4 linked regions of the Homo sapiens genome follow. The protein of the gene in region 2 interacts with the protein of the main gene of each other region in a pairwise test. Each region holds a gene or a part of one and is shown on either strand. Other genes may lie near its edges.

Region 1 (5,889 bases), on a different chromosome or scaffold from region 2:
GTCTGCACTCATGACCTTGCTAGTCTTTCCTCCGCTCAGAGGCCCCCTGCTGGCTCTCCCAGTCCCATCCCATCCCACCCCATCCCATCCCGCCACACCCCACCCCGAGTTCCTTTTGCTGAATGCCAGCCTCCAGGACAGAGAACACCAAACTGGCCTAACAAGTTATTTGGCCAACACTAAACAACACTCACACAAATTCTTAGAAGTAGAGGAAAGAGCAAGCCAACTGAGTTTATCAAATCGGTAGTGTTTGGAAACTGAAAAATCATTAAAGCCAGAGGTAACTGGTGGCTTAAGGTCCCCTTAATACAGACTTTGATGTCTAGAAATATCAAAACTGTTCACATCAGAACTCAATCAAACCACAATTTCTAGATAACCGTTCTTTTACGAGAGGCTATCACTTTGCCTCAAGTAAATATAAGCATGACCCCTTAAGAATGTGAGCTGGGGAAGCCATTCATTCAGAGGAATATTCACTTATTCCCTCAACGTCCACAGATGGGTTCCAACCAAACTCACCCAGAATCATCAGGGCCAACGTTCCCCCACAGGCCAAACATTCCAGAGAATCAGCTAGTTCTGAGTCTTTTAGGAAGGAAGCTGCCTCCATTCCAGGAAGGCAACAGAGCCCATCACTAAGCTAACCTAACTCTTCAACCCATGGAATGGCAAATCTGGGCCTTTAGGCTCCCTAATGGCCTCAGTTCTTGGAGTGACTAGTTCATTCATTCAACAAATACTCACTGGGCACACAGTGTGTGCCAGACAGTACATCAGGTGTTAGCTGTTGTTCAGCGGTGAAAAGATATGCCCATCCGGAAACAAGCACACAAAAAGTTGTAATTTCAAACTATGATGACTGTTGACAAGGAAAATACACTCTTGGAAAAGAAAACAAAACAGAAGGAAAGGAAAAGGAAAAGAAAAGAAGAGAAAAGAGAGAAGAGAGAAAAGGAAAGGGAAAAGGAAAAGGAAAAGAAAAAAGAACAGAACAGAACAGAACTTAATTTAAATCAAGGCATCTATACCAATTCTCTCCCAATCACAAGGTATTGGACTGGGACTATTATCACTCCTAAATGCAGAATCAAATACTTTTCAGTCGGCTCTCTGTGACACATCCCAACTCAGGGACCATAACTGCTAGAATATGTGCAGACAGAGGCCCTGTGCCAACTCAAAAGGTAAAAGAAAGGCCACTTTATTAATACATGCTTAGATCACAAAAGAATGCACGTATTTTTAGAGCACACCAAGCACAATGCCTGTCACATGTTAGATCTCAATGAATGGTATATATTATCATTTCATTAGAATCAGAAGAAACTCAGTCTTCAGTCCTAGGTACCAAACTTCAAAAAGGCTTAGAAAGGAAAGCATTATAACGTATGACACAAAATCCACAGGCCAAAAAACACAACTTGCCTAGCAAGCAGGAAGTGTTCAATAAAAAGGTTAGTCGTAAAATGGAGAAATTCGAATTGAAACTACAGTGAGATGGCAAAGAAATTCTGATAAACCACTGCACTGGTGAGAATGGAAAAACATCCTCAAATACTGCTGGTTGGAGTGTAAAAAGGGTTCAACCTCTACAAAGAACAATTTAGCGACTGTCATCAAAATTTTAAATGTATGTAACCTTAGATCCAGCAATTCCACTTCTAGAAATGTATCCTAAGGATAAATCGGACCAGTGGTTCCCAACCAAGGGTGATTTTTTTACCCCCTTGGGGAGCATCTGGCAATATCTACAGGGATTTTTGGCTGTCACGACTTGGGATGGGAGTGCTACTACTGGCATCTAGTGCAGTGCGCAGGGCAGAGATGATGCTGCACATCTTACAATGCACAGGACAGCTCCCACACAATGAGGAACTGTCCAGCCCCAAATGTCAGTAGTGCAGAAGTGTATAAACCCTGTATTTTAAAGCATGAGCAAAGTGATAATATGTGCTGGGATACTGACTGCGGCATTGTCTGTAATATCAAAACAAACATCAACGTCTCCCAATAGAGGATATAATGGAATACTATTCATCTAAGCCCCTGTCACTAGGAAGGAGAAGGGGAATTTGAATGTATTTCCCAAGAAGTAATGACATTATACTAATGAGGTTTTCAACTACCACTTTTGCCTAAAGGTGTTTATATGCCTCTGAAATGGCTGGAGCATGCTTTCTCATTCAGAAAGTTCACATGGCCTGACAGGGAGGCAAACATGGCCACAGCCAGTGTCTGCAGAGCATACTGGGGGCAAATGAGACTCTCCAGAAAACAGGAACATAAATGCTTAAGGCTTCAAAATGGCACTCTGTGTAAATGCATTAGTAAAAACTGAGACTCTCACAGTAATTCTGAATCAGGACAGTTGGTATCCATGCACAGATGGCAGGGGCATGAGCCACGTGGGCCCTCAGAGACCCAGCCAGAACCATCCCCTGGCCACTAAAGGCTGCACTGGTTCTCCACCCAGGATGCTTATTTGCATCTCTGGGCCTCAGCCCAGATGAAATAAATTAGAATCTCTGCAGGTACAATCTGGATTTGTTCTTAACACACTCGAGCGATTCTGATGTGGAGCCAGTTGAGACTACTGGGTTAAGGGTTCTTACCAGTTAACTGAGAAAGGACAACTGAAACTGAGAAGACAACCATCTCTGAGCACAAATTATCCATACGTAAAAGGCATCTAGTTCTCTAAAAAAAGGAGGGGGATCACATTCATAAGAGAGGTGGTGAGGCTCTAGAACGACATCCCAGGGCATGAAAGCTGGTGGAAGCCCTTCAGTACTGGAGAGCACTCAGGTCAGACCGGGCTGGCTGTCACCTAGAAAAAGCGGATTTGCTTGGGACACATGAAGCAAGGGAACTGGTGCTATGGTTGGCAGGTATGGGGTGCAAATTCTAGCTCAATACTAAGAATCCAACCCTCACACTTTGGTGGTGGGAATGTAAGACAGTGCAGCTCGGAGAATGGTTAAACAAAGTTACCATGTACCTCGCAATTCTACTCCTAAGTACATACCCAAGAGAAAGACAAACTGTCTACACCAAAAAAATTGCACATGAATGCTTACAATGGCATTATTCAGAACAGCCAAAAGACGGAAACAACCAAAATGTCCATCAACTGATGACTGGATAAACAAAATGTGGTGTATCCATACAATGGAACCTTTGGCCATAAAAATGAAGAAATGATACACGCTATAACATGGATGAATCTTCAAAACATCATACTAAGTGAATGAAACCCATTGAAAAGACCACATATTGATTCCACTTATACAAAATAGGCAAATCTACACAGACAGAAAGTAGATTGTTGGTTACTTTAGAGCTGGCGAGAGTGGGGAGATACAAGAGTGATAGCTAAAACGTTTCTTTCTGAGGTGACAAAAATGTTCTAAAACTGACTCTGTTGATGACTATACACATCTGTGAACATACTTTCATTAGGTGAATTGTATCTCAATAAAGCTATTTTTAAAAGAATCTAAGATTAAGTTGTTCAAAAAGAATAGGCTGCATAGGGAGACCTTCACCTACAACTGCATTCTGCAGAGTGGCAGATACATTATGGTGATTAGACTGGATGTCTTTTAAAAATCCTTCCTGAAACAAGTTTTTTGTCCTTACGTCTTTATTTAAAATTGCAGAATGTCAGGGAAGCAGTAAAGCATGATGGCCAAACATACAGGGAATCAGACAAGCTACATTCAAAACCAGCCTCCCCTACCTTCTGGCTGTCTGACCTCAAAAAAGTCACATTCCATGCTTCAGTTTTCTCATCTGTAAATTGGGAATAATACATATCCTGTGGTATTGTTGTCAAGACTGAACATGATGCCTATCAAGCTATCAGTGTAGTGCTTGGCACAAAATCCTCTATAAATAGAAGCTTCTACTACTAATCATCACCATAAAGCTGGAGGCAATAATAATAAAATGATGACAAACCACAACTTTAGTAGTTAATCTTTCAGAATTCTAGCCCAATGTCTTCATTTTATGGCTCAAATAACCGAGCCTCGGAAGGGTTTGATGATGGGGACAAGTTACGGAATGGCTGGTAACAGAGGCAGGACTAACACGCCCATCTGATGTCCAGTCGAGTGCACTTCTTGCTTCCCAGGCTGACTCCTCACTTGCTTTAGGGTGGATTACAATTCAGAAAAAAGCATCCATTTCTCCTAGTTTACTGTCAGAACATACATAGGCCCACCAAATGCCCCAACTGTAATGTAAACAAACACGCACACACAGGCATGAGGAAATGTGTGCTACGCTGAATTTAACGTCGAGTGTATCGGGACTGGTAGAGTGTAAGAAATTTGCTTGAATAGGAAGCTGTTGCTTAGTGGGGAAACTGCATGTTTCCAAACAGGGCAGCTCTCAGAGCGACTCAGTTGACATGAACCTGAAGTGCTAAAAACCCAGAACACACATAGCTGGCATCAATCCTGGATAAAATAAATTACCCAAGACAAAGCCAGGATCCAACTGGCCAAAGGATGATTCAACTCACAGAGAAGACAGAACATGGTCAGGTTCGGGGCCTTGGTCTTATCTAAGATCATTATGCCCTCCAGAACTTTCTTGAGTTAGAACTGGATAAGTAACACGGCACTGGTACCAAGTTCACCCCAAAGCAACGGAACCATCTCTTGAAGCTGGCAAAACAAAAAACAGAAAACAAAACCAAAAAAAAGAGGCTATTTTGATGATGACAATTTGATTTGCTGGAGCTTTAAGACCCAAGACAATTCATTATTCGACCTGAACACTGCTCTGATGGCTCAATTTCAATACCAGTTCTTGAAATCTGAGTACTGCATATGTAATTAGAAGCAACTTCCTGGCCTTTTTCTTGTTCAAAAAATCTTTTTATCCAATTTACTTCACTCAGCATAATTATACTGAGAACCATCCATGTTGCTGCATGTGTCAACAGTTTATTCCTCTTGATTGCTGAGCTGTATTCCAGTATATGGATATACCCGTTTCTTCATCCATTCCCCTACTGATGGACACTAAGGTTGTTCCAGTTTGAGGCTATTACAAATAAAACTGCTATCTACAAGTCTTTGTATGGACATATACTTCATTTCTCTTGGGTAAATACCTAGGAGTGGAATGACAAATTCCAAAATGGGTTGTACCATTTTGTATTCCCACTAGCAGCGTAGGGAAGTCTCACTTGTTCCACATCTTCACCAATACAGTCTTTTAAATTTACACACATCACTGGCCAGGCGCAGTGGCTCACACCTGTAATTTCAGCATTCTGGGAGGCCGAGGTGGGCGGATCACTTGAGGACAGGAGTTCAACAACAGCCTGGACAACAAGGAGAGACCCCATTTCTACTAAAAATACACAAATTAGCTGGGCGTGGTGGTGCATTCCTGTAATCCCAGCTATTTGGGAGGCTTAGGTGGGAGGATCACCTGAGTCCAGTCGGCTGAGGCTGCAGTGAGCCATGACAGTGCCACTGCACTCCAGCCTGAGCAACAGAGCAAGACCCTGTCTTAAAAAATGAAACCTTTTCATCACAAGCGCACAAATTCGTGACAGCAGACTTTTTTGTTCATCTCTCTGCAAATTCAAAATACTTCTAATTGTGCAAAGAAAATCACTAAAACATGAAAGAAAAAACCAATGACCACAACCACAAACTCTAACCTCAGACCTGAACATTACTAAGCAAAATAAAACATTCCTTCATCTTTATGTTCCACTGACAGTGATTCTCTGCAGTCCAACAGAGCAGCCACTAACCACGTGTGACCTTGGAGCACTTAAAATGTGTTGTGAATGTAAAATGCACACTGGAGTTCAATGACTTAGCATGAAAAAAATGCATGTAAAATATCCCATTAATA
Region 2 (5,889 bases):
AAAACTGTCAAGGTCATCAAAAACAAGGAAAGTCTGAGAAGCTGTCACAACCAAGAAGAGCCTAAGGAGACATGACTGCTAAATGTAATGTAGTATCTTGAATGGGATCCTAGAACTGAAAAAAGACATTAGGCAAAAACAGAACCTGAATAAAGTGTGTACTTTAGTTAATAATAATGTAGCAGAATTGATTCATCTATTTTGACAAATGCATCATACCAATGCGAAATGTTAATAATGGGGAAACTGGGTGTAGGGCATACAGAAAGTCTCTGTACTATCTTTGCAGTAATTCTGTAAATCAAAAACTATTAGTACATTTATTAAAGAAAAATCTACTAGGAAAGCTTCCAGAAGTATTCCATGCTCACAATAAACAAGGCAAATGCAATCAAGAAAACTCAAACATGAGATTAAATCAGTTAACTGGCTGCTCAACTATAATAATGCCCTGTGCCCAGAGCTTTACAGAAACTATCACACGAAATATTAGCTTATTAAGCCCACAGCTTCTTTACCAGGATAAAATGGCCAAAGACATTGGTCTCAAACACCTCCTGAAGTCCATCAGCAGTGATCTTATCACCCTGGGTCAGCAGGCCTTCAGCTGTGGAGAACATATGAATCACTTTTCTGAAACAGCAGAAGATAATTGCATGACTTTTTAAAGCTTCTTTAACTGGAAATACTGAAAACACTTTCCAACCCATCCCCCCGACCCATAAACTACACCTCCCTTGATTCTATAATGACAGGAATAAAAATACCTATTTCTCAGACTGGGTTATTGTATTAAATGAAATGCCAAAGACCCTCCTTCCCCCCACTAATTCACAGAAATACTTACATACTTATAGCTCACGCTACCAATAGGAACTTGAGTCTCTCAAAAACCTGCTGCTAAAATTCTCTTCACCTCTTTCCCAATCAGGTTACAGGTAAACTGTTCTAAAGGAATAATAAGCTATGCCAAAGGGAAAAAAAGTTTTCCTGTGCACAAAGTATGTTTAACTGTCAAAAAAAAGAGTTAAACAGATTGTTTTTTTAACTGGGAATACTTCAAACGTATTAATATAGTGTTCTGCTGGGAGGTCAATTTAGTAGGTCAAAATCAATGCGGGGAGAGAGAGACAGAGAGAGTGTGAGAGTGTGTGTGTGTGTCTGTCTTTTAATGGAAAAGAAGTAAAGCAAAAGCATTGGTATAGTAAGCAGCACATAGTAAGAATGCCTATTTATGAATAAGTGTATTGGGTCACAAAGTAAGATCTATTCCTATAAATAAGAATTCTCCTGGTTGTGTTTCAACATTTTTGAAAGCCACTACACTAATGAGTAACGAGAATCTCCCAGGAAACATTAGTTGTCTGCATTTCCCCAACCTACTGGTCAGAGCACCTGACATACAGCTGGGAAACAGTTCAAAGTAACTTTCCTGGAAATTGGAGACTCTCTGAGAACTCTGCCTAATTTCAAAATGTTCTTGCTAATAGGCATATCCAGGCAGACCAAAAAATGACCTTCTAAACCATTTAGAATGTCCTGGAGACTTAGAATACCATAAAAAACGGGACTTTCAGCACTCCCCACAAAAGAGGATTGCTTTTCTTTCATGATATGGTTGCGACATCTCCTTTTTCTGTCTTCAACCTTTTCAACAACCCCTTACCTTTCATCCCCCCAACTTAACATGCCATCAAAACTAGGCAGAAAAATGAACACATTCCTTCCAATCAGTTCATCCATAAAACGAAAATTACCTTGAAAAGAGGCCAAAGAAAAGTGCTTTGATATTTAGTTGTGGATTAGGCATGATCCCAGCATTTAGATATATACAGTCTAATCTCTGAAACCTGCAAGTAAACCACCAAACAAGATTGTGAGTTGCAAGTAAAAACATCAGGACAAGATTGTGTATTCTATCTCTAGAGTGACTAGAATCAAGGAGGCCTAAGAAAGACAAAAAATACTTTTTAAATTAATATATTAGCCACAGCAAGTTCAGAAGAATTTATAGCACATTAGAGTTACAGCATTTCTTTCTCAACAGTTTTTCTTTAGCTACAGTAAACATTTGAGAATTCTTTCTTTGGTAGTGGCTTCAAACAGAATCTGTGGAGTCATCGTGGGCTTTAAGTAAAACCTCTGATCAATAATTCCTTCCAGCTCTGTCCTCTCAATAAGGAATTGCAGCAACCCTCTATCTCTTAAACCCACTCTCCTCGTCTTACAAAGTGTCTTGCTTTAAAAAAAAAATCCACATCTCCTCTGGTTGACAAGTAAAATTTATATACTATTGATATTCACCTGACCTGATCTATTAATGCTGAAATCTGAATGCCAAAATATATAATAAAACAGAAGATCCATGTGGAAACCTTTCAGTGTTCATGGACAAGTCCTATGTATCCTAAAATGATGAAAGTTCGTAAGAATACACTGAGATTATAAAAGATAAATGGGGGTAAGGTAATCTTGTTGGGCTCCCCCCTGAATACTTGTCACGGAAGGGATATGAAATGCTGAGTTGAAAAAGCATTTTCAGTTTTAAACCTATGTAAGTCTTCATCTAAGACTCTTCATCTAAGACTTACATAGGTTTAAATGTACTCATTTTGAACTAGGTTCAAGGCAGGTAAAGCCTGCTCTCATGATACTCACAGACACCATAAATATTCAGAATATCTCCTAGAGTTCTATGTACCAAACTGTCTCTGAATAACCCAAGATATTAAGAGTCATAGCTTCTAAACTTAGGACCCTGAAATACATACATGGTCTTCAACACAGATCACATACAACCATTTCTTGATCATCCTATAAATAATTGACAAATGACTCAAATTATTAAATTGACCATTTAAAATGCTGATATTATTACCATCAGTTCATCATGTAAGTGCCACAAAGATAGTGTGAGTTCATCCATTGTTGCTTGTTCTATTACCTTATTTGCCAACTTTTATCTATGAATATTAACATATTTGGCTAGGAACGGAGAGGAAATGTTTAGTAAAGACATCAAATTAAGCTCTGGCTTCAGTAAAATGACATACCACTCATCAATAAAATAATTGATACATTGCTCTAATATGGATAAAACAGCATCACTATTTCTTACTAGTTTTCATCTGCACTATCTAATAGAAGAGAATGCTACAGATGGAAAGACCAGGTGTCAGGGATGGTGCTACTTGAGCCATTAGAAGGGATTCTCAAGCTCTCTTTAGCTCTAGTTTATTTCAGACTTAGAACTGAAGAGATCCATTTGAGCCACTGGGTGTAGTTTCTTGACATAAGTAAGAATCTATCTGGACACTTTCATATATTCCAAACTTGTGAATATCACTATAACCATTCATTTCCTAAACTTGAATTGACACCAACCATCTCAAAAAAAAGGCTGTTTTGCGGACTAAATACCTCAAAACTTCACTAAAATGCTGATGACAGGTACCTGGGACAACTCACTTATCACCTGAAGTGCTCCCTTCTGCCCCACAGCCTCACTGCCTTGAATCTGTGCTAAGTTGCTAAATATCTTACGAAATACTAAATTACTGAACTCGCGATAAAGTACCGAATATCTTGAACCTTTGAAGGCATTTGGGAATAGTCAGTACTATAAATGTTAAAACTTTGGGTCTCAAAAGTAAACTGCATCGGAATGGGATATTATTAACTGGGAAATGAAGGTTCTTTTCTTCCAAATAAGAAAATATAACAAAATCTAAACAAAGCAGGTAAGAAGCCAGCTGGCTAAGAAAGTTTGGGAAAAGAATGCCTGTAAACATGATTTAAAACTCATAACTTCTCTCAACTTCATGGTTTTTATCTCCATAAGGACATTCAGTATACAGTTTCACAGCCCTGGAGATGCTTAAGTTATGGAGGAGTAGGGGATATGGAATATATCAAAATTTATGTGAAAACAGAACCTAGAAAATCTCAGGTTTTTTGTTTTTTTTTCTTTAAGATGCGGTAGAAAACTCTAATAGCTCAGCAGTACTGGAGAGAGAAACCACATTTACAAAGGACTAAGGCCACACTGAGAAGAGCTGGAGTGAAGAAAACTAGCTTTCACTTTGTAACTTGTGCATTTGGAACAGGCAAATGCAAATGATTATCAATTCACATAAAATGTGAAGTATTTTTATTCAGCAAACATCTTCATCAAGAAAGCCTTCCTTGTTTCTACCCATTTCATTCTACTGTCCAAGGAAACAAGGTAGTTCTTTGTCTCTTAAGTGCCTCAATATTTGAAAATTAATTATTCCAGATAGCCCTAGGGCAGCATAGACTAGTGCAGGGTTCTTGGACTTTTTTCATCATAAATTCCTCTTACAATTTAAAAACAAATAAATAAATAAAAAGCCCTCTCTGCTCAGAAAAATGCATTGTGCACCTACATGCAATTTTGTGTTCACTTTCAGGGGAGTTATACATCTGAGGACTCTATTCCTTCATATACCAACTATTGATCAAATGTCTATTACATGCCAATTACTGTGAAGGTGTGAACAAATCTTTACTGGCCTAGGGAAAAAAAATACCCCTTAGGAAGCAGGGAGAAGCCCTGGGGTCTTGGACCCACCCAACTAATATAAGATTGGATGACCTTCCCAGGCATATTACCCTTATTTCTGTGTCTCAGTTTCTTCACTTGTTAAATGTCACTCACTACTTGCCTTATCTACTTAATGAATTCATTATGTGAAGAAAGATGTAAAAAATGAATTCAAATGTCAAAGGAGTTACCTTAACGTAAGGCAGTGCAACTGATCACACATCAGGATGTACTTACAAATTAGTCTCCATGAAATAATTATGATCATGATTGAGATTGAAAATGTGGTACTGGCCAAGTGCAATGGTTCACACCTGTAATCCCAGCACCAACTGATCGATCACATATCAGGATGTACTCATAACTTAGTCTCCATGAAATAATTATGATCATGACTGAGACTGAAAATGTGGTACTGGCTGGGCGCAATGGCTCACGCCTGTAATCCCAGTACCAACTGATCACACATCAGGATGTACTCATAAATTAGTCTCCATGAAATAATTATGATCATGATTGAGACTGAAAATGTGGTACTGGCCAGGCGCAATGGCTCACGCCTGTAATCCCAGCACTTTGGGAGGCCGAGGCGGGTGGATCACGAGGTCAGGGGTTCGAAACCAGCCTGACCAACATGGTAAAACCCCGTCTCTACTAAAAATACAAAAATTAACCAGGCATGGTGGCGCATGTCTGTAATCCCAGCTACTCAGGAGGTGGAGGCAGGAGAATCACTTGGAACCCAGGAGGTGGAGGTTGAAGTGAGCCGAGATCACGCCATTGCACTCCAGCCTGGGCAACAGAGCAAGACTCCATCTCTTTAAAAAAAAAAAAAAAAAGAAAGAAAACGTGGTACTGAGACACAATGGGTCACCCTATACAGACTTCCTCAACATAACTGCTTACACCGCACCTGTTTCTTTTCAGGTTTTTCTTTCCTCTCTTATTTTATTAAGTGTTATGCTGCACAATCACATGAGAAAAAAAATCCATCAGCAAGAGATATACCTTTGCTTAAGTTCCTTGGAGGCCCGGAAGACCGACTGCAGGTTGCTGACATCCACCTGGACAATGGTGACCTCAGCAGTGGGGTGAGAGGCCAGCAGAGCAGCACAGACAGCTTCTGCCTTGCTCATGTTCCTGCACGCCAAACACAGATGAAGCTCATCATCTTCCGCCAGCAGCCGCTTGCAGAGGGCCAGGCCAATGCCACTGGGAGGACAATTCAGACACAAGATGTGGGTTATCTGGGATGGCATCAGGTACAGGCATTTCTCTCTGGTTCAGAAAACTGTGTCAAGTTGACCTCCAATGAGAAGCCCAGA
Region 3 (6,329 bases), on a different chromosome or scaffold from region 2:
GCCAGAGCTCGGGGGAGGAAGGAGTGGGGAGTTATTGTTTAATGAATATGGAGTTTCAGTTTGGAAAGATGAAAAAGTTCTGGAGATGATGCGCGATGGGGGTTGCACAGCAACGTCAATGTACTTAATGCCACAGACCTGTATACCTTAAAATGTTTAAAGTAGTAAATTTAATTTTACCACAAAAAGAATACAAAATTAATAATAAAATTAGTGACAAAAGTGAATATCTATTTAGAACAAGAAAATGATTTATAATAAATCAAATATTTTACAAAGTTAAATATCAAAAATATCACAAAATCTAAAAAACAATATTTCATATTCAGCCACTGCCAGACACAATCCTCTAAGAGCTTTTATCTATATTTTAATTTCATAATTCTGGATTATCTCTTCATATAGCAAAAATTTTATATTATTTTCTGTAGAGAGAATAGAAAGATATTTCAGTCTTATTTCAAGCATGGTTGATTAAAATTTTTGTTTGTTCTTATTAATACTGGGATTCATAAAACTTCACACACATTTGAAGTACTGCTATAGGTTTGTGTCTTAATACACAGGATTCTTTAATTTTGTACTATTTTCATCAAAAAAATTTTGTAACATATGATGTGGTTTTAATCGTACGTAAGACATTATCAGATACATTCCTGAGAGAACCTGTCTTAACTAGGTTTTCTGGTCAAATTCTAAAACCAAATTCTCTGCCTGCAGCTTTACACACTGGATGATTGAAATTATTTTCCCTCGATTAGCTCTGTCTCTGTGCATTTCACCATCTGTTTCTCTTCAATAACCTACAAATTTCTGAACCTGGGAGCCATTAGGAAGCACACTTTCACTTTTCAATATGACTTCTGGCCCTGCATATTTGTTTTGGCATAGTGGATGCTACCCTGAATGGCTAGCAATAAATTATCAATATACAGAAATGACTGATACCCACATAAATATGACCCACTAAAGCCAAACTAAAATTATTCTCAACTCAACTTTCCCCATTTGGGTCTCAAAAATGCCCACAGCCCCTCCAATACCACCTGATACAGGAAATATGATGCCGTACAGTCAGAGTAAAATGATAATGGGGTTGACTGATTGTGGTTAAATATCTTTTGCAAATTTTATATAAAACATATGATTGTGTGAACACATTTCTTGTGCCCTTCTGGGATCTTGGAAGTAAATCAAGCAATGAATGGTCTTACAGCTTAAGCATCATTATTTTTACAATATTGCCACCTCTGCCTAAGTCTGTCTCACTCCAACATTTTTGCTTCTCTCCACTGTGCTATTCCACCTTAGATAATTGTAAAACATTAGGACAAGGGCAATGAGAGAAACCTAATTAGACAGGAAGGACACACTAAAGAAAGACACATGAAACAGCCTGGAAAGAAGGCTTCGGAGGGAAGAACTCACCTATCGCATGCTGGCCTGTCCTGGCATTGCACTGTTTTATTTTATGTATTTTGTTACCACTTTCAGAAAATTAACAGCACAGCTCTGCCCAACTAGCACATCTAATGCCATGTGCCACCCACCCGCCCTACACTGACCAGTGGTGCCATAAAATACCTGTTTTTTTCCTTTTCTTTTGAAAAAAAAAAAAGATTAGAACAAATAGAAAGATTAGAACAAATGTTGGCATGATAGAAACAAGGAATAAAATAGGCAGAAACATCCCAAGGGAAGATCTACATGCTCTAAATGAGTTTGTGTCTCTTGGAGAGGAATAAAATCCAGAGCACGGAGAAAGTTCAGATAAGATGGATGAACCTCAAAATAACTCGAGGTGCAGTGAAGACTCAGGCAGAACAACTGTATCCTGGCACATGCTATCCCAAATTTCAAAAATAGAATGGTGGATGTAGGTGAGCTATAGATCATGAGCTTGATGCAAATGTAGGTAATATTCTGAGATACAGTATTCAGTAGATAGTGTTAATCACGTAGGGAATGGTCAATAAAATGACAAAAGGATTCTTGATATTGAACTGGATATAAAACATGTAAAAAGCAAGTTGACTCCAATCAGGCAATAAAGAGATTGAATTCAGTCGAGTAGTGAATAATATCCTATAGAGGGAATTTCAACTATCAAATTACACAGTTATAAGTTATAAAAGAAGCTGGGCATGGTGGCTCATGCCTTTAATCCCAGTACTTTGGAAGGTCCAAGCTGGTGGATCGCTTGAGGTTAGGAGTTCAGGACCAGCCTGGCCAACATGGCGAAACCCCATCTCTACTAAAAATACAAAAATTGGCCGGGTGTGGTAGCGCATACTTGTAATCCCAGCTACTCGGGAGGCTGAGACACGAGAATTGCTTGAACCGGGAGGCAGAGGTTGCAGTGAGCAGAGATCATGCCACTACACTCCAGCCTGGGTGACAGAGTGAGATTCTGTCTCAAAAAAACAAAAAAGTTATAAAAGAGGTAACTTTAAAAATTGGGTAAGGGGGCCGGGCACGGTGCCTCACACCTATAATCCCAGCACTTTGGGAGGCCGAGGTAGGCGGATCATCAGAGGTCAAGAGATTGAGACAATCCTGGCCAACATGGTGAAACCCTGTCTCTACTAAAAATACAAAAATTAGACGGGCGTGGTGGCACATGCCTGTAGTCCCAGGTACTCCGGAGACTGAGGCAAGAGAATTGCTTGAACCCAGGAGGCAGAGGTTACAGTGAGCTGAGATCACACCACTGCACTCCAGCCTGGTGACAGAGAAATTGTCTCAAAAATAAATAAATAAATAAATAAATAAATAAATAAATAAATAAATAAATAAAACTAGGTAAGGGTACACATGATATACTAGACTGCATGAAACAGTGTGAATTTGGAAAGCTCTGTTACCTCAAGGAGATGCCCAGCAGATTGACTTTCGGGTCGTGTAGAGGCACCCTGGGCATGTGTGGTACCTAATTAGGTCCCTGACCCTCTCTCAAATTCTTTAACTGACACTTCAACCCTGGCCTTGATTCTCTGATACAGTATCCTCAGCCCAATCAGATCATACATCTATCTATTCTCTTTATTTGCATAAGTGGATTTACAATACTGGGAGAAGAGAGAAATAACTATAAGAATGTTGAAGTTAGTCAAATCCACAATATTAACACATTTGTATTAACTTTAGAAATTTAATTATTTAATCCTTGAGATAACCTATGAAAGATTGTTTGTTAAGTTACTTGAAGCATTTAATATAACCTGATATATTAGAAAATCAGATATATGAACCATATAATTTCAATTTTAAAGTACAAGAGCATTTTCTTCAGTCTATACACAGTGTTTGAATGTTTAAGAGAACATAACTTACTACTGCATAAATTTGGTTTATTACTTTTACTGGAATTGCTTTAATTATTAGAGCCCCCTCCCTCCTTTTATAAACTTGCAAGATGTATAAAAGATACTAATGTGTCAGGCATTTGAAATGCTTGAGAGATTCAGGTAGACTAAATTTGTAATTGATATAATATATAATATTTAAAGGAACTTAATTAACCAAGTCTATCAATTGCATTATTTGTTTAGGGGAATTAACGTCAAATTGAACATTAGTCATGGAATAATTTTAAATGGTAATTTATATTGGCTGGGCACAGTGGCTCACGCCTCTAGTCCCAGCACTTTGGGAGGCTGAGGAGGGCAGATCACCTGAGGTCAGTAGTTCGAGACCAGCCTTGCAAACATGGTGAAATCCCCTCTACTAAAAATACAGTAATTAGCCAGGTGTGGTGGCATGTGCCTGTAATCCCAGCTACTCGGGAGGCTGAGGCAGGAGAATCACTTGAACCTGGGAGGCAGAGGTTGCAGTTAGCAGAGATGGTGCCACTGCACTCCAGCCTAGGCTGCCAAGTGAGACTCTGTCTCAAAAAAAAAAAAGGTAATTTATATTATCCTTTTCAGATTTACAGATTTACAGAGATCTGCTTGATAAATATAAAAGGTTTAGAAAAACTATAAAGGTTTTTTAAGCTTTGCAGCTTTCATTCATTGAATAGTAATTAAGATGTAGGTAGGACTGTATTTTACAAGATTTAAAGATTCTTTTGGCAGTCGGATAAAACACTTCAATGCTCAGCTAGATGAAAGGCAGAAGTCTTTGTTACTTACAGCTCTGAATGAGAGAAGGCTGCCACAGAGGACCACGCAGGGGGTTGCACCTGAGGACTGGGTACCACAGGCTGGAGGGGGAATGGGCAGCTTATGTACAGCAAAAAGGGTGGGGTTAGCTAGGTTGAATAATTTTGAATAATTTGCATAATTTTGGCGGGCTTTGGGGCATGGGCGCTGTCCTTAATTGTCTGATGTCTGGCCCTGTGGTGATTAGAGTGGGTACATAGTGGCCCCAGAGTGTGAGAACCTGATAAGGGAAGTGGTTGGGGTGTGGATTTAATCAGCTGCTCAAGAGAGGAAACTGACCAGCCTCTAGCCAAGGCCTCCATACTAGGTCAAGACAGCACAATAATCAATAAAAATACCATATATGAAATATATTTAGTCACTGATTCCTTTATATCTTGATGTCGATTTTGAACTCAATTATTTGGGGTGTTTGAGTGGCCTGAATAGTAGAGGAGACTTCTACAGAATAGGGCCTAAGTTGCACTAAACAGCATAGAAAACATTTTATTATGACAATAACAAGGAAGAAACCAAGTAGAAATGTGACAAGTCCCTGAAGGCTGACTCGTAACCAGGCTCCCATTTGTTTGGCGTTGGCCAGGAGAATACATCAGTCATGGCAAGGGCCTTTAGTCATATTTTGACTGGATTTCAGAGTGTGTTAAATATGTAAGGCATGTTTTTTTAGGGTGATGGTTTTCTGATCCAGGCTTTCTGTTAGAATGACCTCTTGATTGGTGGTGTTAACCCACCTACAACAAGAAGCTCTAATAATGTTACAAACACCTCTTTGACTAGTTAATATATAATCAAGGACAAATTTACTGTCAAAAAACATTTTTGCCAAAGCTCCCTGGTTTAGCAGGACTAATATTTGCTGTAACTTAGAAATATGATATACTAGAGTTTTGGACATTTGTAGGGTAGCATCAATTATTTTTGACTGTTGGGCTAAAGCAATGGTCCTTGTGGCCATCGCAGCAAGTCCCAGAGCAGTGGTGAGTCCCAGTATTATAGGTACAAATGTGGCACATCAATGACATTTGGCTGGGTAGGGAAAGAATAATTAACATTTATATAAATAGGAATGCCAAGAGAGGCCAGAATGCATCTCGTGGCTTCCAGTTTCAGAGTAATGGAAGGGCAAAGGAGAGGGGATAAACACCCTTGTTGGTTGGGACACAATATAGTTTTGTGGCATTACCATTAGACTGGAAAATTGTACCTTGATTTAGGTAAAGGGAAATTACTAAAGAATGGGACTGGAGGAAGACAGTGGCTTTTGTTGGGCATATGGTGAGAATATGCAGTTGTTCATTGGGTAGCCCATCTGTGGTATGTATTGAGGAAATACGAGTGCAGTTGCCACTTGCCATGAGGGGGCACCCCAATACAGAAGAAAAGGCCGTTTGGAAGTGGTTTTCATTTCTCAGTATTTTTCATCTCTGGGGCAATTATCAGTTGGGTAAATGTGTGATGTGGGATATGTGGAAGCAGGGTGATGAGTTATGGATAGTCAGTGCAGAAGAGCCTACTTCAGTCAAATGTGTTTGTATTTTGGATGTCTGTATAAATATCAGAGAAGCTGGGGCAGTGGGTTTGAATTTTACTTACGTAGTCTTTTAGAGGGCAAGAGGAGAAGATGCTGTTAGGACGGAAAAGATAGGGGTGGGAGTAGGGATACTGACAATGAGAAAGGGAAGGCGAGGAGGATGGAAGGGAATAAATGGTTTGACAGTCGGAGACCAGCAGATGCTCCTTTTACTCCTAGGAGAGCACACAGGGTGGAATACTTCAGTCAGGTTACCCTTTAGGCAGGAGAAGTGGGTGGGATTAGCAGGAACCTGAATCTTAGAAGCATTAGGGAGGTATTGGACTTGGTCTCATAAGGGCTAAGCCAGGTATAGAGTGGAATTACAATCACAGAGAGCAGAACTTCGAGTTTTATAGGTGTCTGTAAAGTCTGGAAAGTTACTCCAGTGTTGTGGGTCTTGCTTTTTTAAAACAGAAGTCAGCAGTGTAACCAGCTACTGGAAAACCAAGAGCCTCTGGTCTCCTATGAATGGCAAGACATTCCATGTGCTAGTGTAGTTGGCACTGCCCATAGTTGGTTGGGAGGCAGGGGGCATGTCATCTTTAATGGCATGGTCTTGAGCTAGGGCAGTGTCGGACTAGGGTATCCTT
Region 4 (4,922 bases), on a different chromosome or scaffold from region 2:
TGTGTCTTCACATGGCAGAAGGGGCAAGGGAACTCTCTGGGGCCTCTTTCCTAAGGACACTAATCCCATTCATGAAGGCCCCACCCTCATGACCTCATCACCTCCTAACATAACCTCCTAATACCATCACCTTGGGATTGGGTTTCAGCACATGAATTTGGGAGGATGCAGTGTTCAGTAGAGAGCATAAGGGGCACTCGCCCAAGCAACCAGAGGTAGCCAGAATTCTCAAGGGAAGAGAGCGCCTGCCCTGGAAATCAGCCCTCATTCCTGAGACACGGGGTCACAGGGGACACAGTGAAACAGGGTACTGGGCCCCATTGCAGGGCACGTGGACAGCCGTCTGCTCTGAGGGGAGTCAGGCAGCATCAGCCTCACAGGACCCATGCCCCTTCCTGGACCCCTGGACCCCGTTGAAAGGAAACGGCCCAGCGTTGAGGCCAGGAGCCAGGGCAGCTTTGGCCTTGTCACCAGAAACTCTGAGTCCCAGGGTCAGGTCTTTTGCTCTGGAGCCGTGGTTCTCAACTAGGGGAGCTGGTTTCACCCCGTGTTTGTTTTCTATGGCCGCCGTCAACAAATGACACAGCCTTGGTGGCTGAAACAACACAAGTGATTTTCGTACAGTCCTGGAGGTCAGAAGTCCCACATGGTCTCTGCAGGCTAACAGGGTGCCTGGAGGGCTGCACCTGGAGGCTCTCTGGCAGAGACTGTTTCCTTGTGTGTTCCAGTTCCTAGGCGCTCTGGTTAAGGCCCGTTCCTCCATCTTCAAAGCCAGTGACGCCATATATCCCTCTGACTGACCTTAGCTGGGAAAAGGTGACTCAGTGGGACCTGCACAGATACTCCAAGATAATCCCCCAACTCGTGGTCCCTCACCTTCCCCACAGCACAGGATCTCTTCTGCTGCATCAAGAAACATAGTCACAAGTTCTCGGTATTTGCATGTGGACATCTTTGGAGGGGGCCGTTATTCAGCCTAGCCCAACCCCCTAGGGACATTTAGTAATGTCTGGAGACATTTTTCCTCCCCTCAACTGGGGAAAACAGGGGGATGCCAATGGCCTCTTGTAGGTGGAGGCCAGGGATGCTGTAAAACACCCTACAATTCACAGAACAGCCCCCCACGACAGCTGGGTCCCAAATGGCAGTCGTGCTGAGGTGCAGAAACCCTCTTTTCTCATGGTTGCTAGGGGCAACCGGAAAGCAAATTAGGTCCACTGGACCCCGTTGCCGAGGAAAGCTGGCCTCAGCAACCAGGGGTCTCAAAACGGGCACACCCTGGAAGATGTAGGACTAACAGGCACCCTGGGGGGCTCAGCCACCATCTCATAAAGGAGAATGGGGTGGGGGGTGCAGGCCTCCGAGTCACCGTGGTTGCTATGACAAGCCCCCCAGTTTTTGTTTTTGTTTTTTTGAGACAGAATCTCCCTCTGTCGCTCAGGCTGGAGTGCAGTGGCGCGATCTCAGCTCACTGCAACTTCCACCTCCCGGGTTTCAAATGATTCTCCCGCCTCAGCCTGTCGAGTAGCTGGGATTACAGGTGCGTGCCACCACACCCGGCTAATTTTTGTATTTTTAGTAGAGACGGGGTTTCACCATGTTGGCCAGGCTGGTCTCAAACTCCTGACCTCAAGTGATCTGCCTGCCTCAGCCTCCCAAAATGCTGGGATTACAGGCATGAGCCACTGCGCCCGGCCCACTCAGTTTCTCTTAAAAGAAAAACGAGGTCTCCGCCACGGGACCTCAGGTAACATCCTAGGCCCCATGGAAATTGCTGGAGACCACCCAGCAACCAGTGTTTCCACCTCAGTCCCCAAGAGGAGGTGGCCTCAGGACCCAGGAGACAGTGACCTGAGTCAGGCTGGCCCAGCATGAGGGGCCTGAGACCCCCCCGACTCCACCAGTAGGCTCCCTTGAGCCCAGTTCCATGGAACATTTCTCCCTAACAACCAGGGTAGGAGAGAGTCGGGGGGCCCCTCTTGCTGTGAACGTTGAGCACCGTCCTGGCAGGCTGTTTCCTAGCGAACAGTATCATAACCAGAATCTGAGAGTCTCCTAAAGTCAGGCCCGGCCCAGGCCCCCTTGGACTAACCTGGCCCCAGGGTTGCAGGGGGCATAGGGTGCAGCCCCCGTCCTAGGGGAGTCAGGCCTTGCCACTTGGGGTGTGTCCTCCGAGTAACCAATTCAAGGCCAGGTGCTGGACGGACTGGGCCTTATCAGGGATTGGAGCTAGAGCCTCGGGGTTACTGAGACCGACTGATGAGGAGACTCTGCCCCCATCCCCTGGTAATGGGAACCCCAACCCTGGGCTGCGGAACCCACGAAAAACCTCTTCCTCCCTTGCAGACGAGAAGAACGGGGCCCAGACCCGGCCTGCTGGTGCCCCACCCCGAAGCCTGCAGCCCCCACCCGGCCGCCCAGACCCAGAGCTGAGCAGCTCTCCCCGCCGAGGCCCCCCCAAGGACAAGAAGCTCCTGGCCACCAACGGGACCCCTCTGCCCTGACCCCACGGGGCCGGGGAGGGAGGGGACCCCCCTCCACCCCCCTTCCGTGCCCCCCAACTGTGAATCTGTAAATAAGGCCCAAGGAACATGTCGGGAGGGGGGTGGACACAAAAACCGGCCTTGCCCTGCAGGGATGGGGCTCCACAGGCCGTGCCCAACTGGGGGTGGTTCTAGGGGAACAGGGGGCGGGGGAGCTGTTTCTATTTTATTTATTGATTAATTTATTATTTTATTTATTGATCAATCTCTCTGCGGGGTGGGGTGGGGGAGGGACGGGAGCTGGTTGGGGTGGCTTAGCAGATCCGGACAGGGCCCTCTGTCCCTGTGTCGTCCCCAACCCCCTCTTCCCGGGCCCCTCCTCCCCTGGTCCTCCCCCCACGACCTTCTGTACGGATTTGCTCTCCGGAAGGAATTCTGGTTTCGCGTGATCCTGCCTGCGTCCGTGTCTCTGATTCCGCCGGCGGCAAAAAAAAAAAAAAAAAAAAAAAAAAAAAGATAATAATAATAAATAGCCTTGATCAGGGACAGCTGGCTGGCCTTGGCCTCTCGATTCCTGGGTGCCCAGTTGCAGGGGCAGGGCCCGAAGGCGGGGACGGGGATGCTGGCTGCCACCAGCTGTTCAGAGGCCCTCCGCGCCGGCACACAGGTCCTCCGGCTCCAGGTCAGTCAGCGGCAGCCCCAGCTGGTTGGAGAGATCTCCAGTGGCTCATCTTGCTGGGTGCGGGGCACTGGGATTGGCCCCATCTTTCCTGCTTCACTGGTGAGGGCAAGGCCCGGGTCAGGGTGCCTGCTACAGCTGGACCGGCAGGGAGATGGGGGAGGCCGGCGGGGGGCTGAGGCTGGGCCACGGCTGAACACACAGGGTGCAGCTCTCCAGGGCGGAGAAGTCAACGGCTAAGAGACCGAAGAGCGCGAACAGCAGCATGGCCACGACCCACTCGCAGGCCGCAGAGACGCTACGCAGCGAGCAGGCGTGGAGGACGATCACTGCCCCAGGGTCAAGGGCCACACTGCTACCGTGACAGACGCGGAGCCCGGCCTGGTCTCTGTGCCGCCTCGCGCTGGGCGGAGGCCGTCTCTGGGTGTCCCCATCCTCAGCTCTCCCCTTCCCCCGTAGCTCCTCACAGACGGGGCCTCGCCTTGGTCTCCGATGCTCTCCAGCCGGTCTCCATCTCAAGCTGCTTGCACATGCTTTCCTTTGCGTGCACCCCCGTTACTATTGCAATCCTAATATCCTGAAATGTTTCTGTCTCCCTTCCCTGACCCAGGGAAGGGCCTGGTTGCCTCCCTACTTGTCCAGGACATCCAGCTGCCATTGCTCCTGCCTGTAAACATGCATGGTTTCCTAAATACGCCTCCCTCCCTGCCGCCAGCCTCGGACTGTGTTTTGCAACTTTCTCCTGAACATCCACCCCGCTACCCATGGCCTACAGGCCCTTCCTGCTCACTCCCAGAGCCTAATCTCTTCCCTGTAAAATCTGTTTCTCTGAGTGTCCCCTCCTCCACGACAACTCCACCATCCACTCATGTGCCCCAGCAGACACTCCCCCGGCCCTCTCTTCATCCTTCTTGGCCAGCTGGTCACCCCAAGTCTTGTCCTATCTGCCTTACCCATCTCTCTCCAGCCCTCTCCTCATGTCTTGTGCCTTTCTCTCCTGGTCTGTCCCGTCCCTCCTCTGGTTCTCGCACCCTGCTAGCTCCTTAAGACCTTTTTCTGCTCTGCCAGCCCCTGCAGACTCCAGGCCTAGTAGAGACAGCATTTGTTTTCTGGAACTTCTCTCACTGGAGCTGCTCACCACTTCACCCCTCCCAGACAGCTTATTCCATTCATTCAGGGATTTCTAAGGGGGCTGAGAAGTGGTGGCTCACGCCTACAATCCCAGCACTTTGGGAGGCCAAGGTGGGAGGATTGCCTGAGGCTAGGAGTTCGAGACCAGTCTGGGCAACAGAGCGAGACCTGGTCTTTTTTTTGAAACAGAGTCTCACTCTGTGTCCCAGGCTGGAATGCAGTGGCGTGATCTCGGCTCACTGCAACCTCTGCCTCCCAGGTTCAAGCGATTCTTGTGCCTCAGCCTCCTGAGCAGCTGGGACTACAGGCGTGTGCCACCACACCTGGCTAATTTTTGTATTTTTAGTAGAGATAGAGTTTCACCGTGTTGGCCAGACAGGTCTTGAACTCCTGATCTCATGTCATCCGCCCGCCTTAGTCTCCCAAAGCGCTGGGATTATGGGCATGAGCCACAATGCCTGACCGTAAACTTCCTATGGCTCTCTATCACCCCCAGGCAGAAACCCAAGCCTCTGATCCCTAATTTTAGAGAATCCTCAGCCCTGGCCCTGCCAGCAGCCTCACTCCTCCCTGGGCTGGTCTTTCTGCTCGGTGCGTGTACCTGCAGTGTGCCCTCAACCTCCCAGCCC

Evidence for each region.
Region 1: the proteins of HSD17B7 (region 2) and GPAT4 interact in a two-hybrid assay, tested with the Homo sapiens proteins (one large-scale study listed by BioGRID and IntAct).
Region 3: the proteins of HSD17B7 (region 2) and CA1 interact in a two-hybrid assay, tested with the Homo sapiens proteins (one large-scale study listed by BioGRID and IntAct).
Region 4: the proteins of HSD17B7 (region 2) and BRSK1 interact in a two-hybrid assay, tested with the Homo sapiens proteins (one large-scale study listed by BioGRID and IntAct).

What each region holds. Positions count from the first base shown.
Region 1 is NC_000008.11:41,583,563-41,589,451, reverse strand, and holds part of GPAT4 (glycerol-3-phosphate acyltransferase 4 isoform 1 precursor), read right to left. Parts: intron 4,675-5,889; exon of another isoform or gene 4,535-4,674; intron 1-4,534. UniProt on the Homo sapiens protein: Converts glycerol-3-phosphate to 1-acyl-sn-glycerol-3-phosphate (lysophosphatidic acid or LPA) by incorporating an acyl moiety at the sn-1 position of the glycerol backbone. Active against both saturated and unsaturated long-chain fatty acyl-CoAs.
Region 2 is NC_000001.11:162,792,546-162,798,434, reverse strand, and holds part of HSD17B7 (3-keto-steroid reductase/17-beta-hydroxysteroid dehydrogenase 7), read right to left. Parts: intron 5,777-5,889; coding exon 5,573-5,776; intron 1,851-5,572; coding exon 1,758-1,850; intron 634-1,757; coding exon 519-633; coding exon of another isoform or gene 498-518; exon of another isoform or gene 293-497; intron 1-292. UniProt on the Homo sapiens protein: Bifunctional enzyme involved in steroid-hormone metabolism and cholesterol biosynthesis. Catalyzes the NADP(H)-dependent reduction of estrogens and androgens and regulates the biological potency of these steroids.
Region 3 is NC_000008.11:85,373,913-85,380,241, forward strand, and holds the start of CA1 (carbonic anhydrase 1), read right to left. Parts: upstream 4,202-6,329; 5' UTR 4,134-4,201; intron 1-4,133. UniProt on the Homo sapiens protein: Catalyzes the reversible hydration of carbon dioxide. Can hydrate cyanamide to urea.
Region 4 is NC_000019.10:55,309,565-55,314,486, forward strand, and holds the end of BRSK1 (serine/threonine-protein kinase BRSK1), read left to right. Parts: exon of another isoform or gene 1-660; coding exon of another isoform or gene 661-731; intron 732-2,346; coding exon 2,347-2,504; 3' UTR 2,505-2,998; downstream 2,999-4,922. Other genes in the region: modulator of macroautophagy TMEM150B, read right to left, coding at 3,295-3,491. UniProt on the Homo sapiens protein: Serine/threonine-protein kinase that plays a key role in polarization of neurons and centrosome duplication. Phosphorylates CDC25B, CDC25C, MAPT/TAU, RIMS1, TUBG1, TUBG2 and WEE1.